Regions from separate parts of the Homo sapiens genome. Here region 1 is linked to region 2. Evidence: fine-mapped expression QTL. A gene starts in region 2. The other region holds a variant in brackets. All regions are shown on one strand. Distances are from middle to middle.

Region 1 (8,000 bases), 890 kb before region 2:
GGGCATGGTGGTGGGCACCTGTAATCCCAGCTGCTCGGGAGGCTGAGGCGGGAGAATCGCTTGAACCCAGGAGGCAGAGGTTGCAGTGAGCTGAGATCATGTCACTGCACTCCAACCTGGGTGACAGAGCAAGGCTCCATCTCAAAAAAAAAAAAAAAGTCTGATGCCCAGGCTTCTCTCTGATTAAGTTAAAATTTTTAGAAGTGAGACCAGGTCACTGATATTGTTAAAAACTGCAGGCAGGCTGGGCACAGTGGCTGACACTATAATCCCAACACTTTGGGAGGCCAAGATGGGAGGACTGCTTGAGCCCAGGAGTTTAAGACCAGCCTGGGCAACAAAGTGAGGCCCTGTTGCTACCAAAAAAAATTTTTATTTATTTTTTTTGAGTCAGAGTCACGCTCTGTTGCCCAGGCTGGAGTGCAATGGCATGATCTGCTCAGTGTAACCTCCACCTCCTGGTTCAAGCAGTTCTCCTGCCTCAGCCTCCTGAATAGCTGGGATTACAGGCCCCTGCTCCCATGCCTGGCTAATTTTTGTATTTTTAGTAGAGATGGGGTTTCACCATATTGGCCAGGCTGGTCTCTTTGCCAGCCTGGTCTCGAACTCCTGACCTTGTGATCCGCCCACCCCGGCCTCCCAAAGTGCTGGGTTTACAGGTGTGAGCCACTGCGCCTGGCCAGAAAAAAAACAAAAACCACAACTTTTTAAAAATTAGCTGGGTGCTGTGGCGAGCAACTGTAGTCCCAGCTACTTGGGAGGGTGAGGCAGGTGGATCACCTGAGGTCAGGAATTCAAGATCAGCCTGGCCAACATGGTGAAACTCCGTCTCTACCAAAAATACAAAAATTAGCTGGGCATGGTGGCGTGCTCCTGTAATTCAGTTACTTAGGAGGTTGAGGCATGGGAATTGCTTGAACCTGGGAGGCGGAGGTTACAGTGAGCTGAGATCATGCCATGGCACTCTAGCCAGGGTGATGGAGTGAGACTGTCTCAAAGCAAAAAACAAAAACTGCAGGCAGTATTAAAAACTAGTAATATAAAGTGATTACCCAGGCCCCTAGGGGTGCATTAGGGCTCAGAACATTTTAGCTATTGTTATTTTTTTTCAGCTTTGGGTAGTGATGGTGGTGTTTTGAAGATACAGGAGTAGAAATCAGAGAAACAGGCTGCCTAGGGTGCTAGGGATGTTAGGACCCTAGGAACTGTAACCAGCAGGCTAGCTGAGGGTACATCTTTTTTTTTTTTTTTTTTCTGAGAGTTTTGCTCCATCACCTAGGCTGGAGTGCAGTAGCACAATCTTGGCTCACTGCAACCTCTGCCTCCCGGGTTCAAGCGATTCTCATGCCTCAGCCTCCCGAGTAGCTGTCACTACAGATGCTCAACGCCATGCCCAGCTAATTTTTGTATTTTAAGTAGAGATGGGGTTTCATCATGTTGGCCAGGCTGGTCTTGAACTCCTGACCTCAAGTGATCCACCCGCCTCAGCCTCCCAAAGTGGTGGGATTACAGACGTGACATGAGCCACTGCGCCCGGCCTTCATGTTTAGCTCTTTAACTTTGCATCCACCCAATGCCTTGCCGATAGAAAGATGTGGCTTGCTTTGTTTCTCTGTTCCACGCATATGGTACTACCATTTCCTCTGAGACTGGCTGTTACTGCTCCTTTCCTCTGAGAGGCTGATGTCACCAGAGTCAACACCAGGGCCTCTGAAGGTGAAAGATCCTCTGTGTACTCTGCCTTTTTTTTTTTTTTTTTTTTTGAGAGGGAGTTTTACTTTGTCGCCCAGGCTGGAGTGCAGTGGAGTGATCTCAGCTCACTGCAAGCTCCACCTCCCAGGTTCACACCATTCTCCTGCCTCAGCCTCCCGAGTAGCTGGGACTACAGCTGCCCACCACCACGCCTGGATAATTTTGTGTATTTTTAATAGAGACAGAGTTTCACCGTGTTAGCCAGGATGGTCTCAAACTCCTGACCTCGTGATCTGTCAGCCTTGGCCTCCCTAAGTGCTGGGATTACAGGCATGAGCCACCGCACCCGGCCCTTTTTTTTTTTTTTTTTGGAGATGGAGTCTCACTCTGTCACCCAGGCTGGAGTGCAGTGGTGCGATCTTGACTCACTGCAAGTTCTGCCTCCCGGATTCATGCCATTCTCCAGCTCCAGCCTCCCAAGTAGCTGGGACTACAGACACCTGCCACCACGCCCGGCTAATTTTTTGTATTTTTAGTAGAGACGGGGTTTCACTGTGTTAGCCAGGATGGTCTCGATCTCCTGACCTCGTGATCCGCCCACTTCAGCCTCCCAGAGTGCTGGGATTACAGGCGTGAGCCACCGCGCCTGGCTTTTTTTTTTTTTTTTTTTTTTTTGTCTAGCTCTGTCGCCCAGGCTGGAGTGCAGTGGCACGATCTTGGCTCACTGTAAGCTCCGCCTCCTGGGTTCACGCCATTCTCCTGCCTCAGCCTCCCGAGTAGCTGGGACTTCAGGTGGCCGCCACCACGCCCAGCTAATTTTTTTTGTATTTTTAGTAGAGACAGGGTTTCACCGTGTTAGCCAGGATGGTCTTGATCTCCTGACCTCGTGATCCGCCCGCCGCAGCCTCCCAAAGTGCTGGGATTACAGGAGTGAGCCACCACGCCCAGCCTACTCTGCCTTTCAAAGGGAAGGTGTGAGTGAGCCAACTTCTCAGGCCTGATCCTTAACCCTGTGTCCACTCTGCCTTGTTTTGTATTTGATGTGACTACATCTTTCTCCCCTCTTTCCTCAACTATCTTCTAGTGCTATGACAGGAAGAAGCTTTTCCTTTTGAAGGGGGCCCCTTCTGACCTCCATGCTGATTGCTCTGTCTTTGTCCTTTTCTCCTTAGGTCTTGGGCGTCTTTGGTACTGGCTTTTTTAGGGGTCTGCCTGGGGATTACCCTTGCTGTGGATAGAAGCAACTTTAAGACCTGTGAAGAGAGTTCTTTCTGCAAGTATGATATTTCTGGGGGAGAGGGATGGAATGTAGGGTTGTAGGGTAATGTGGGAGATATCTGTGGCAGATGGAGTGCCTAAGGACACTGCAGGTGATAGACTGACTTAGGGACATTGCAGGTGGCCTTTACCTTACTTCCCAACCCTTCACTTGGCAGGCGACAGAGAAGCATACGGCCAGGCCTCTCTCCATACCGAGCCTTGCTGGACTCTCTACAGCTTGGTCCTGATTCCCTCACGGTCCATCTGATCCATGAGGTCACCAAGGTCAGGAGAGACAAGGAAGAGTCTGGTGGGGGTGGGGCAATGGCTGTGGGGTAATTTGGAAAGGGGGAAATTGTGGCCAACATCTTGTCCCAGCCTAATCTTTGGACTTTTACTTTATGAAGAAATGTGATCTTGGCCTTTAGGCAAAGGGCTCAAAGGAAGAAACCCCTTAGGAGAGAATGGGTTCAAAGAGCATTCCATGGTGTATCCCATTTCCTTTCTCCAGATCCAAACCTCTGTCCCCGCAGGTGTTGCTGGTGCTAGAGCTTCAGGGGCTTCAAAAGAACATGACTCGGTTCAGGATTGATGAGCTGGAGCCTCGGCGACCCCGATACCGTGTACCAGATGTTTTGGTGGCTGATCCACCAATAGCCCGGTAAATTTTTCCTGAGAAACATCCATTTCTGTGGCCCCTTTCTCCTTCCTGATGAACCTTTTTTTGGTTGCTGATATTCTTTCCCAAAATAAGGTAGTAGTTAACTAGCATAGCACCTTGCCATACTCCTCAACCTTTCCCCACCTCTTCTTCTGTTTCACTTTTCTCTTTATCCCTTTATCCTCATTCATTCATTCAGCAAACAATTATTGCTTTTTCCTCCCTGACAGGCCTGGGCTGGATGCTGGTTATATAAGCAGAAATAAACAAGGCCCTGTTTATTTACAGATCTCGTTCTCCAGGAATACAATGTCTACCTGCTTGCTTGTTTGCTTGCTTCCTTCCTTCCTTCCTTCCTTCCTTCCTTCCTTCCTTCCTTCCTTCCTTCCTTCCTTCCTTCCTCCTTTCCTTTTCCTTAGATATTCAGAATAGGATTACTCAGATTCTTGTGTCATGATACTCTGTCACCAGTGTTCCATGCATCCATCCATGACTTTCTCTTAAATACATAATTCAGAAAATAACATAGTGGCCGGGCATGGTGGCTCAACGCCTGTAATCCCAGCACTTTGGGAGGTCGAGGTGGGCAGATCACGAGGTCAGGAGTTGGAGACCAGCTTGGCCAACATGGTGAAACCCCATCTCTACTAAAAATACAAAAATCAGCCAGGTGTGGTGGTGCGGACCTGTAATCCCAGCTACTCAGGAGGCCGAGGCAGGACGGTTACTTGAACCCAGGAGGCAGAGGTTGCAGTGAGCCGAGATTGTGTCACTGCACTACAGCCTGGGCGACAGAGTGAGACTCCGTCTCAAATACTCCACCCTATAAACTCTTCACTCAGCCCAACCCGCACTGTCCTGTACCCTTGACGGCTCCAGACGTAGGTAGTCGTTATTCTGAAGCTTATCCTTCCTTTGCCTTTTTTTTGTTCTTACAGTTGTATTATGTGTGTATACATATGCACACATATGTCTGTGTGCCTAAGCAATAAATTATATATATTTTTTGTTTTTGAGCTTTACAGAGGAAGTGTCTTAGTGCATGTGGTCTTCTGGGGTTTCCGTTTTTTCTTTTTTTTTTTTT[G/TG]AGATGGAGTCTCGCTGTCTCCCAGGCTGGAGTACAGTGGCGTGATCTGCGTTAGCCAGGATGGTCTCAATCTCCTGACCTCGTGATCCGCCCGCCTCAGCCTCCCAAAGTGCTGGAATTACAGGTGTGAGCCACCGCGCCCGGCTGGGTTTCCGTTTTTCACATAACTTTATTTAATTCCATTTCATATAGCTCTAGTTCATTCATTTTTACTGCTGCATATTATTATGTTGTATGAATATACCCCAACTGATTAATCCATTTTTAGGTTGATAAGCCTTGGGGTTGTTTCCAGTGTTTTGCTAGCCAAAGTGTTGCTACGAACCTTCTTGTACATGTCTCCTGTTATCCTTGCTTGGGAGTTTCTCTTTGGTGTATAACTAGGAGAGGAATTGCAGGATTGTAGAATATGGAGATGATCAGCTTCGCAAGATAAAGCCAAAGTGGTTTACCAATTTACACTTCCACCAGTGATTTATAAGAAGCCCTCATTGAAGCTGGGCAAGCCAGGATGGTCTCGATCTCCTGACATCGTGATCTGCCCATCTCAGCCTCCCAAAGTGCTAGGATTACAGGCTTGAGCCACCACACCCGGCCAGCCTTCCCTATTATTAATATGACTATGGTTCATTTGTGATACCTAGTGAATTGATAGTGATACATTAGTTACTAAAGTTCATACTTGAGGTTTCTTTAGTTTTTGTGTATGTTCTTTTTCTGTTCCAGGATTTCATCCAGGATATGTTATTACATTTAGTTGTCATGTTTCCTTAGGGCCCTCTAGACTGATAAAATTTCTTAGACTTTTCCTTTTTCTTAATGATCCTAAAGGTACTTTTGATAAACAGAAATTCCTAATTTTAATGTATTTAGATGTATCAGTCTTTTACCTTCTGTTGTTAGCCTTTTGTTTGTTGTATTTAGTCTTTATCTACCCCAAGGTCAGAAAAAAATATATATATATATATTTTTTGAGACAGAGTCTTGCTCTGTTGCTTAGGCTGAGTGCAGTAGTGCGATCTTGGCTCACCACAACCTCCGCCTCCTGTGTTGAAGCGATTCTTTCTTCAGCATCAGCCTCCCGAGTAGCTGGGACTACAGGCGTGCACCACTATGCCTGAGTAGCTGGGACTACAGGCGTGCACCACTATGCCCGAGTAGCTGGGACTGCAGGCTCATGCCACTATGCCCAAGTAGCTGGGACTACAGGCGTGCGTCACTATACCCGGCTACTTTTTGTATTTTTAGTAGAGACAGGGTTTCACTATGTTGACCAGGCTGGTCTCAAACTCCTGACCTCATGATCCACCTGCCTCGGCCTCCGAAAGTGCTGAGATTACAGGAATGAGCCACCATGCCTGGCCAAAAATATATTTTTTAATTTTCTTCTAACACTTTTGCTTTCATTTATTTACTTATTTTGAGATCGGGTTATGAGACTGGCTAATTTTTGTATTTTTGGTAGAGATGGGTTTTTGCCATGTTGCCCAGTCTGGTCTTGAACACCAGGGCTCAAGCGATCCACCTGCCTCGGCCTCCCAAAGTGCTGGGATTACAATAGTGGGCCACCGAGCCCATCCTAAAGCTTTTACTTTTAAATTTTAAGCAGGCTGGGTGTGATGGCTCATACCTGTAATCCCAGCACTTCGAGAGGCCAAGGCGGACAGATCACTTGAGGTCAGGAGTACAAGACCAGCCTGGTCAACATGGTGAAACCCCGTCTCTACTGAAAATACAAAACTTAGCCGGGCGTGGTGGTGGGCGCCTGTAATTCCAGCTACTCGGGTGCCTGATGCACAAGAATCACTTGAAACTGGGAGGCAGAGGTTGCAATGAGCCGAGATTGTGCCACTGCACTCCAGTCTGGGTGATAGAGTGAGACTATCTTAAGAAAAAAAAATTTTTTAAGTCATAATCTTTCTGCAGTTGATACTTGTATCTGGTATTAGATAGAAATATGATATCAAGGGGTTGGGCGTGGTAGCTCATGCCTGTAATCCCAGCACTTTGGGAGGCCGAGGCAAGTGGATCACTTGAGGTCAGGAGTTTGAGATTAGCCTGGCCAACATGGCGAAAAATCATATCTCCTAAAAATACAAAAAAAAATTAGCCGGGTGTGGTGGCACCTGCCTGTAATATCAGTTACTAGGGAGGCTGAGTCAGGAGAATCACTTGAACCTGGAAGGTGGAGGTTGCAGTGAGCCAAGGTTGTGCCACTGTGCTCCAGCCTGGGCAACAGAGCGAGACTCCATCTCAAAAAAAAAAAAAAGAAGTACATCATTTTTCTTCATATTTGGAAAATCATTTTTTTTCCTATATGGAAAATGTTTTTTCAGTTCCATTTTTGAATAGTTCTCCTTTCCTCTCTCATCTGCTATGCCACCTCTTAGTATTTAGTACATTTAAAAAAGTAATAAGTGGCCAGGCACAGTGGCTCACGCCTGTAATCCCAGCACTTTGCGAGGCCGAGGTGGGTGGATCACCTGAGGTCAGGAGTTTGAGACCAGCCTCAACATGAAGAAACCCCATCTCTACTAAAAATACAAAATTAGCCAGGTGTGGTGGTGCATGCCTGTAATCCCAGCTATTTGGAGGCTGAGGCAGGAGAATTGCTTGAACCTGGGAGACGGAGGTTGCGGTGAGCCGAGATTGCGCCATTGCACTCCAGCCTGGGCAACAAGAGTGAAACTCCGTCTCAAAAAAAAAAAAGAAAAAAGTAATAAATATGCTTGGGTCTGTTTCTGGGCCCTTTGGTTCTGTTTATTAACTTGTCTATCCCTGCTCTGTTACCACACTGCCTATTTCTCTTAACAGGTAGATTTCCCCCGGTCTTCTAAAGTGTCATTACTCCTCTTGGCCCTTTGTACTTCCTTATATTTCTTTTGATATGTTTCCCAGGCTTTCTGTCTCTGGTCGTGATGAGAACAGTGTGGAGTTAACCATGGCTGAGGGACCCTACAAGATCATCTTGACAGCACGGCCATTCCGCCTTGACCTACTAGAGGACCGAAGTCTTTTGCTTAGTGTCAATGCCCGAGGACTCTTGGAGTTTGAGCATCAGAGGGCCCCTAGGGTCTCGTGAGTACAGGGGTTGGGACTGCAGGGAACCTAGTGTGAAAGAGCATAGGGGTGTTGTGAGGTCTGGCACGGGGAGGAGACGGTGGTGGGACAGCCAGGTAGGGCCTGGGGGCTGGGAGAAGCTCTCTGTCAGGGAGGGTAGGAACCAGACCCGGGTGCGGTTTTTTCCATTTCCTGTACAGACCAGGAGGCAGTCACTTTTGTCCCTGAGCTGTACCCTGGGCA
Region 2 (8,449 bases):
AATCACATTGGAAGCCCCTGCTCTGGTCCAACCCACTTACTTACCCTGGGAGGGGAATGAGGCCAGAGAAGGAAGTCACCAGTCCAGCCACCCATCAGCTTCAGAAGGGGCGAAATCCCAGGCCTCCCTCCTCCAGCCCTGGTGGGGCTCCAGAGGCCGGGCAGAGGCCCACTAAACTCCAAGTGGTCTTTCCAGCACCTGCTGGAAGGCGACTTCCCTCCATCCTCCAAGGCTCCCTGCACACCCACCTGCTTTCTGGGGGACACTGGTTGCTCACTCGAGCCTCATGTGCCCCTAGAATCTAGGGCCAGCAGGCACCCCTTCCAGGCTCGGCCATTCATACTCTAACATGTCTCTCCTTCCCAGGGCTGGGCAGTGAGCTTCTTCAGAGCTGAGGTTCTTCTCTGCCACCCCCTCCTGTCTTGCAGGTGAGGAAAAAGGACTTAAAGAGGGCAAGAGCTCTTTGGGGGTTCCCTGCCAGGCACAGACGGTCACCCCACTCTCAGTGGTCCAGCCTGCACCAGAACTCTGAGGTCCTGGCAGGATTCTCAGACACTGCCCTGTCCCGTGCCTGCCCTGGCTCTGGAGTCCAAAGCCCCCTTATACCATGGCCCGGTTACCTGCTGGAAGCCAGTGCATCCTGCCCGGTGGGTCCCCTCTCTGCAGGCCCTGTGCCCGCCGATCTGGGCTGCCTTGCCTCTCTCTAGGGGATTAGCCGGGCGGTCACGGGGGCCCGGCTGTACCAGCCTCGAGGGGGCCGCTCTGTCCCGGCCTCCCACCTGAGGTCCAAAGCGCCTTAGCCCCCAGCCCACCACCGGCACAGGGCAGGACCCAGCACCTATGCTTGGTGTGTGCCCAGGGAGGGGGACCACGTCAGGTGAGGGGGCGCGCTGTGCTGCAGCCCCTTCGGTAAAACCCTTTCCCAGTCTCCCAGCCCAGAGCCGAGAGCACAGGGACTGCTACCCACTGTCCAGAGGGATGACCAAGGCCAAGTGGGGACCAGGATGAGAGCTCAGGTGTCCCCAGCCCCAGCCCCGAGTGTGACAGCACTCAAGAGTGACGCAGCCACGGCTCAAAAGCACAACTTCCCGCTCCCTCGCACTTCACACACTCACAAGCACACCAGGCCCTGCCACTCCCAGGCCTTCTCTCACACCTACAGTGGGTCCCCCACATGGGCCTTCCCCTCCCAAGTGGCCTGGAGACCCTAGGCCTCAGGGGCCACCCACACCTTCCCCCATCGCAGGGGCTGGGAGCTGTTTCCAGCCCAGCCCTCCTAGACGGGCAGCCTCACACCCCTCCCCTGCTCCCCACAGACATTCTTGAGTCTCCTCTTATCTCTCTGGAGGGAGTAGCGCAGCCTCCCCCCGCCAGGCCGCTGCATGGCTAAGCCGTGGCGTCAGCCCCCACCCCCCAACCCATGGTCAGGAGGGAGCCAGGGAGTCCAGGCCAGCCAGGCCCACCCCTCTGCTCTCTGTCAGGGCCCAGCGTCCTGGGGCAGGCAGTGTGGAGGTCAAGGGAGCCTGGCCTGCGGGTCCTCTGGGTACCTAGCAGGCTCAAGGCACTCCAGACAGTAACCCAAGCAAGCACGAATGTCTGGTCCCCTCTTCCCTGAAGGTCTCAAACCGCGTCAGGCCCCTCGAGAGCTCCTATGGATCAACAGTGTCTGGGGAGAGCCAGAGCCCCGGGACAGATGCAGGGCTGCCTAAGACCCTCAGATGGCCCACCTGATGCAGAGTCAACCATTCAATCTAGTCCAAGCCTGAACTCTTGGGTTCTGGGTCTGTGGGGTGTCCAGAATCCTGGAGTGGGATGACTGAGGCTTAGGGGTGCCCCTGCCTGGGCTGCTCAGCCAGCAGGTGTGAACAAGGGTTCCTGCCTCCCAAGTCACAGAGGGAGAGAAACTGAGGCACCGGAAGACCTGCTTCTCTCCTCCACAGGACTCCACAGGAATCTGGGGCTTGAAACTTGGGCCTTGGTTCCCTGCCCTGTAGCCCTGATAGGTTCACACATGAAGGGAAGGTTCTCAATGCACCAAGGAGCAGGATGTGGCCTTAGGGACTAGAGGGAGCTCGGGGCAGGGGCTGGGCTCGCTGCATTGGTAGACAGGGGCACAAAAGGGGGCCAGAGGGTCTGGCTAGATGTTCCAGGGAGGTTCTGAGAAGCGGAGTGGGCTGGGAGGCAGTCAGCCAGAACTTCCCCTCCCCCTCCCACTGCGGTCCCATCCCTCCAGAACCCAGCACCAGGAGGAGTGGTGGCCCTGCAGGAGGGGCAGGGGTCGTCCAGGAAAAGACAGGGAGTTGGTTAGATGGAGGAGCAGACCTCCAAAACCAATGTAGGGGTGGGGGCAGAAGAAGATATTATGGGGTGTATGTCAATTCCACCCCAGAGGGCTCCTTTCGGTCAAGTGGGGGTGAGGTCACTCTTTGAGGGGGCGAGGTCAGAGAGGCACAGCTCCAGGGTTGGGGGGACATAGTGCTGAGGAGCCTCAGAGGGCTGGTGGGATGCAGTTCACAGCACTAGAAGGGTCTCAGAGAGCAGAGGTGACCGGTGGCAGGGATGTCAGCTTCAAGAAGGTTCCAGCCCCAGGAGAGCATGCTAGGGAGGGGGGTCCCAGCCCCAAACAGGAGAGCAGTCACTAGGCAGCATTGTGGAAAGCAGGTGGCAGTCTCCAAGGGGATCCAGGCTCGAAAGTGGTCCTACCCTCATGGAAGCACAGTGGGGAGGTCCCAGCTCCTAGAAGTCATGGGGGATGGCGCCAACCAGAAGGGCACACAGGGGGTCTTGGTCTCTAGGCGGGGGTCACAGATTCTGGGAAGCAGGCTGGGGTCCAGCCTCAAGAGGTACGGAAGGTCCTAGAAGGCACACCGGGGGTCTGGGCCTTGAATGGGGTTGTATCCCGCTTGGGGTTCTGGGGAAGCAAAGTAGAGGGTCCCCAGACTCGGGAAGTTTGCTGGGGGCGAGAGTGTCACAATTTAGGGAAAGTTCCGGGTCCTGGAAGGCTCAAAGGAGTCCGGACCTGGAAGGGGACACAGTCCCAAGGAAGCTGCGAGTTGAGGAGCGGGGAGGGGGAGCCCAACTTCAGCGGCGGTGGGTGGTAACCGCTGGGGGACTCCCAGCCCCGGGAGCCTGTCTTGGCGGGCTGGTGCCAGCCTGAAGGAGGGTCCCAGCCAGAGGAGGCGGAAACACAGCGAGGAGCCCCAGTTCCCGGGGAGATCAGCCGGGGGTTCCCAGCGCCAGAGGGTCGCCGCCGCCAGCCCGCGGTCTCTCACCTTCGAAGAAGCGCTGCAGCGCCTCCGTCTCGTCCACCACCTCCATGTCCCGCCTGCCCGGCGCACACTCCAGCCGCGGCCCCGCTACAGCCCGGCCCGGGGGCGCGGCATCGCCGGCGCGGCCCGCGCGACAGTCCCGGCTGGGCTCCGGCTACGGTCCCGCCCGGTCCGCCGCCGCGCTTGCCCCCCGCGCGTCCCTGGCCCGGCCCCTGCCCGCCCCACGCGCCCCGCCCGCCGCGCCCAGCGCCCCCTGCCGGCCCGCGCCGCGCCCAGCCCGGCCGCGGGCACCACGCTCCCGACTCCTGCAGGCGGCGCTCAGCGCTGGGCAGTCCTAGGCTTGCGGGGCGCGGGGCCGTCCCGGGTCGGGGGACGCGAGACCGTCCCAGGCTTGAGGGGCGCGGGGCCTTCCCGGGTCGGGGTGGGGGCGAAGGGCCGCTTGGCCTCTGTGGGGTCGGGACTGGAAGGGTGTGCCCTCGCCGTCCTCGCCTTCGTCTTGCACGGGACAAGATGTCACGATTCCGAATCCAAACCTCAGAGACAGCCCCCATCCCTCTCGTTAGCCACCCACACACCCCGCTCAGCAACAATAACAACCTGCATTTAGGGAACGTGTGTTATGTGCCAGGCCACACAGGCATTATCTCATGTACTCCTCACAGGCACCTTATCAAGGAGATGCTGTTGTTACCTGCATTTTACAGATGGGGAAACTGAGGCTCAATGCATTAAGGACTGCCAGGAAGCCCTGTCCTGTGGCTGTGATGATGGAAATGTTCCCTGTGTTGTTCAGTATGGTAGTCACTGGCCACAAGTGAGCACTGGAAATGTGCCTATTGAGACTGAGGAACTGATTTTTTCATTTTGTTTAATTGTAATTAAACAGTTACGTGTGGCTGTGGTATTGGACAATGCAGGTCTAAAAGCTCCTTTTTTTTTTGAGATGGAGTTCGGCTCTGTCGCCCAGGCTGGAGTGCAATGGCGCGATCTCAGCTCACTGCAACATCTGCCTCCTCGGTTCAAGCGATTCTCCTGCCTCAGCCTCCCCAGTAACTGGGATTACAGGCGCCACCACGCTGGGCTAACTTGTATTTTTAGTAGAGACGGGGTTTCCTCATGTTGGCCAGGCTGGTCTCGAACTCCTGACCTTAGGTGATCAGCCCACGTTGGCCTCCCAAACTGCTGGGATTACAGGCATGAGCCACCGCTCCCCGCCCTGCCTAAGAGTTTCAAGGTCATTAAAGTTCAGAGCCAAATCCTGGCTGCCCCGGGAATCCGAACTCTCCTTTGCCGTGGCCCTGTCTGGTATAATGAAACCTGGAGGTTCTAACTCGATATAAGTCCAGGATAAAGCGGTTGTCCTTGTGCCCCTGCCTTCACCCTTATGACTGACTGCCTCCACATCTCTGTCCTGCCCAACTTGCACAGCCTCTCGTCTCACTGATATCCCCTTCAGTTCTCCCAAATCACCCTTTCTGAAACATACATCCGATCATGTCATTCCTTTGCAAAACTAAGTTTCCCTTTGCACTCAAAACAATATCTGAATGTCTTGCTCTGGTTTCTCAGGCCCCGCCTCTACCACTGGCCTCAGCTCTTCCCCTCTCTCCATTGCTCACTGAATAACAGCCACCAAGACCTCCTTGCCATTGCTCAAACATGCAAGGCCTACACCTGCCACAGGGCCTTGGCACATGCTATTCCATCTGTTTACAATGCTTGTCTCCACATGGCTACTTCTTTGTAGCAGTTGGTCTCAGCTCAAATGTCATGTCCCCAACCAGCCTACCTAAAGCAGTTCTCCCTACCTAGGCCTTTCTTGCTCACCATGTAAAAGATTCCTATTTAGTTTCTGTTATTATCCTTCTTGCTCTAGAATGGAAGCCCTACGAGGGCAAGATATTTTTCTGTATCGGTCACTGCTATAGCTTCAACACCAAGAACATGACCTGGCACACAGTAGGTGCTCAATAAATGTGTTGAATGAATGTATGGTGGCATCTTCAAACTACCGAATCCAGTCAGGCTCCAGTGGCTCACACCTGTAATCCCAGCACTTTGGGAGGTTGAGGCAGGAGGATTGCTTGAGGCCAGGAGTTCGAGACCAGCCTGGGCAACATGGCAAGACCCTGTCTCTACAAAAAATTAAAAAATTAACTAGGCACGGTGGCACATGCCTGTGATCCCAGCTACTGGGGAGGCTGAGGAAGGAGAATCGCTTGAGCCCAGGAGGTTGAGGCTGCAGTGAGGCTGCAGTGAGCCATGTTTGCACCACTGCACTCCAGCCTGGGCGACAGAGCAAAACCCTGTCTCCAAACACAAACAAACAAACAAACAAAAATCTACAGAATCCTGGACCTCTGAAACCTTGGGAGCGGATAATTCTGGAATCCCAGACCTAGAGAATCATCCCGCTTCAGAGTGGCTCAACTTGAAGCCTCTCGGGACCCTTCAAGGCAGCACGTAAAAGCTGGAAAAACCTACCCCACCCAACCACTGTTTGACAAGCCACTAAACAGAGGCCAGAGGTGTGGGGGACTGCTGGCAGATCAAGATGCCAACGTAGCCAGCTTCGGACTCTCACCTCTGCCTTGCAGCATCCCCAGGGAGGGTGGGGCACAAGCCAGGCCACCCCGTGGGGATGGGGTGAGAGGCCTGGAAGCCGCTCCCACCCCAGCCTCCCTGTCAGTTCTCAGTGGCCAGCCGTGGGGGAGGGGCAGCCAATGCCTGAGCCCCAGATGTGGCCCAGTCAGCAGGCCCATGGTGGCCCGCCGAAAAGGGTCAATGCCACGACAGTTCTGGGGTTGGGGGAGGGGGTGCTGAGGCCGGCGGGTGCCTCACAATGAGGTTTTGTCCCTCTGGGGGCCGCTCTCAGAGCTGTTGCTCTTAGATATATAGAATGGGATTTTGCTGGAGGCCCCAGCTGTGTGTGCTGACCGCAGCTCCCTCACCGCCCCCGCAGGGGCTGGGCTGAGAGGGGGGAGAGGGGCCACACTGAGACTCCTATTCTTTTCCAGCTGATACACCCCAGAGGTTTTTCTCCCTCCGCAGACTCCCTTAAGACAATTGTTATTCTCCACCCTGCCCCTCCTCCACCCGGGGTCAGGCCTGCCTGCGGACAAAGTAGACACCCGCCTACACCACGCGATTCTGAGAAACGGATTTACATTACGAGTCGCCTGGGACCAGCCACAGAACCAGCTTCTCTACAAGCCTCCACATACCCACGGATCTTTCCTCCGTATCCCACATACTGCATAACTGACCATCATCTAAGTTCTCACCACCATCCGTTGAGCTACACATTGTCCCTGTCCTGGTCAGCAAGGGCTGGAGGTAGAAGGGAAGACTCGTACTTTGTCCCTAACGCCCCAACTCCATTGCATTATAATCAATTAAGAGTATAGATTATTCAATCTCTAGGGTAGCCTTGAAGTTGGAAGGGGTGGAATGGAGCCTCCTGTTAACCCTGTAGCAGCTGACCTGGCTAAGGGAGCTCAGGCCCTGCCATCTCCCCTGTTACACTAGGTCACTGAGCAAAGGAGCAACTGTCCCCAGGGATTTTCATCTCTGGACTGGAGGAAAGAGGTGGCTGAAATGTCCCAGACTCAAGGGCTCAGCCAAGAGTTGAGGCTGCCATCTGCCAACTCCATAATGAAGTTGGGTCCCAAGCAGCGCTGGGGCAGAGGCTGGGGCAGGAAGGTGGCTGGGCCGGTGAAAGTAGCCCAGGGGACTTGCATACAAGGACCTAGGGGGGCCCATCAATGGAGATGAGTCCTCATCTGTGCCCCTGGCTTCTCTACCGAGCCACAGTGAGTGAGGGGCTGAGATTTCAGCCCTAGCCCAGCAGACATGGCTGTCCCCTGTAGCCAGCTCCACCTAGTCCCCAAGGCCTGCCCTCTGTCCTCAGAGGCCTCATCTATAAAGCACACTCAGTATCCCTGCCTTACAGTGGAGGTAAAGTGCCAGGTCAGTGATCAGTAAATGGTGCCCTCTCCAGTTCCAATCAGCTCTCAGCACCCATCACTGTCCCTTGAGTGGGAGCAGGGCCAGGAGGAGGTGGTAGACCGAAGGCAGCACTGGGGAGAGGGATGCTGGCACCTGAGGGTTAATGGGTAATGGGCGTAGAGGCCAGCCCAGGAGAAGGTACAGCCCTGTCCTCCCCACCGTGGGACTCTCCTGGCCTCCTGTGGACCCACACAGCACTGGCATCAGGCCATTTCGCAGAGGAAGAGGAGGGCTCAAAGTGGGGTGAGTGTCAATCCAGCAAGCCAGTGAGGCTGGTGGTCCAGCTTCCCCGGACTAGGGCCCAAGGGCACACCTGAGTGTGGGGTCCTGCAGGGTAGACCCCTTCCTGACTGCAGGGGCACCGGGACAGGAGGGGGCTGCTGCAGGTATTGAGTGGAGCGTGAGGCAGAGTGCCTCTCTAGCCCTTCCCAGCACTGCCCTCTCAAGACCCTCCCCAATGCCACACCCTGGCTGCAGCCCCGGGCAAGCCACAGAGCCTCCCTGGCCTTCAGTTTCTTCTGCCTGTGCTGTGCTCACTGGACAGGATAATTTGCAGACCATTGAGACCACTGAGGGCAAAGAACCTCTGAAAGCCATCAGGTGTGGTGGAGGCCAGAGTCCTAGGCTGAGAGGCCCTGATTCTGGTCCCCAGTCTGTCCCCACCTCCCATGCGACCTTGGGCAGGTCTTCACCCTTGTTTGGCCCGTTTCTGCTTCTGTTCAGTGGCTGTGGGTGAAGACAGGCTCTAAGGCTGGGGGCATTCTTCTATCACTCTCCCCAGCCCCTCACCAAATAGAGCCACTGGACACTGGGGGCCGAGATGGGGGCAGGGTCAGGGGAAGGGAAAGGTCCGGTCAGCTTGGCTGGGTCAGTGCCGAGGCCAGACTCTGCGGCCAAGGCGGGACTGACTGGCTGAACAGCGCCACCTGCTGTGTAGAGGGGGCAGGCCCCACCACCTGGGCCTTCCAGCCACTCCCTAGGCCTCACTGCCCGGAAGCTATGCTGGCCTGGGGTTCCTGGGCTGCACTGGGTCTGGCCAGGTATTTTGCGCCCTCTCAGGAAAGCCCTCAGCAAAGACTTCTAGTGGCCCCTGCATTTCAGTGCTGTCCCACTGGGATCTTCCACCCCTGCCTGCCCTAGCTGTCTGCATTGTTGGGGAGGGAGGTGGGCAT

Alleles and levels. Alleles are on the strand shown, and positions count from the first base shown. SD is a standard deviation of normalised expression in the study named.
For the expression in prefrontal cortex of the gene that starts at base 3,427 in region 2, allele TG in region 1 goes with a lower level than allele G (moderate effect, 0.50 SD a copy in BrainSeq).

What was found. PIP is the estimated chance that this variant, and not a neighbour inherited with it, causes the effect.
Region 1: its variant is fine-mapped to the expression of MYRF in prefrontal cortex (BrainSeq, PIP 0.95).

Annotation. Positions count from the first base shown.
Region 1 is chr11:62,634,596-62,642,595 of GRCh38, reverse strand. It overlaps GANAB (glucosidase II alpha subunit), which reads left to right. Exons shown (of 24, transcript NM_198334.3): 2 at 2,865-2,969; 3 at 3,129-3,237; 4 at 3,486-3,613; 5 at 7,596-7,775. Among named protein-coding and RNA genes, the nearest start is that of GANAB, 8.0 kb to the left of the region's middle. The variant G/TG (reference allele first, on the strand shown) is at 4,698.
Region 2 is chr11:61,747,614-61,756,062 of GRCh38, reverse strand. It overlaps MYRF (myelin regulatory factor), which reads right to left and starts at 3,427. Exons shown (of 27, transcript NM_001127392.3): 1 at 3,273-3,427. The coding sequence starts at 3,318. MYRF-AS1 (MYRF antisense RNA 1) reads left to right here. Exons shown (of 4, transcript NR_026882.1): 3 at 367-428; 4 at 1,618-2,034. RefSeq lists enhancers at 1-11, 6,315-7,176, 8,037-8,449 and silencers at 3,278-3,377, 3,498-3,637.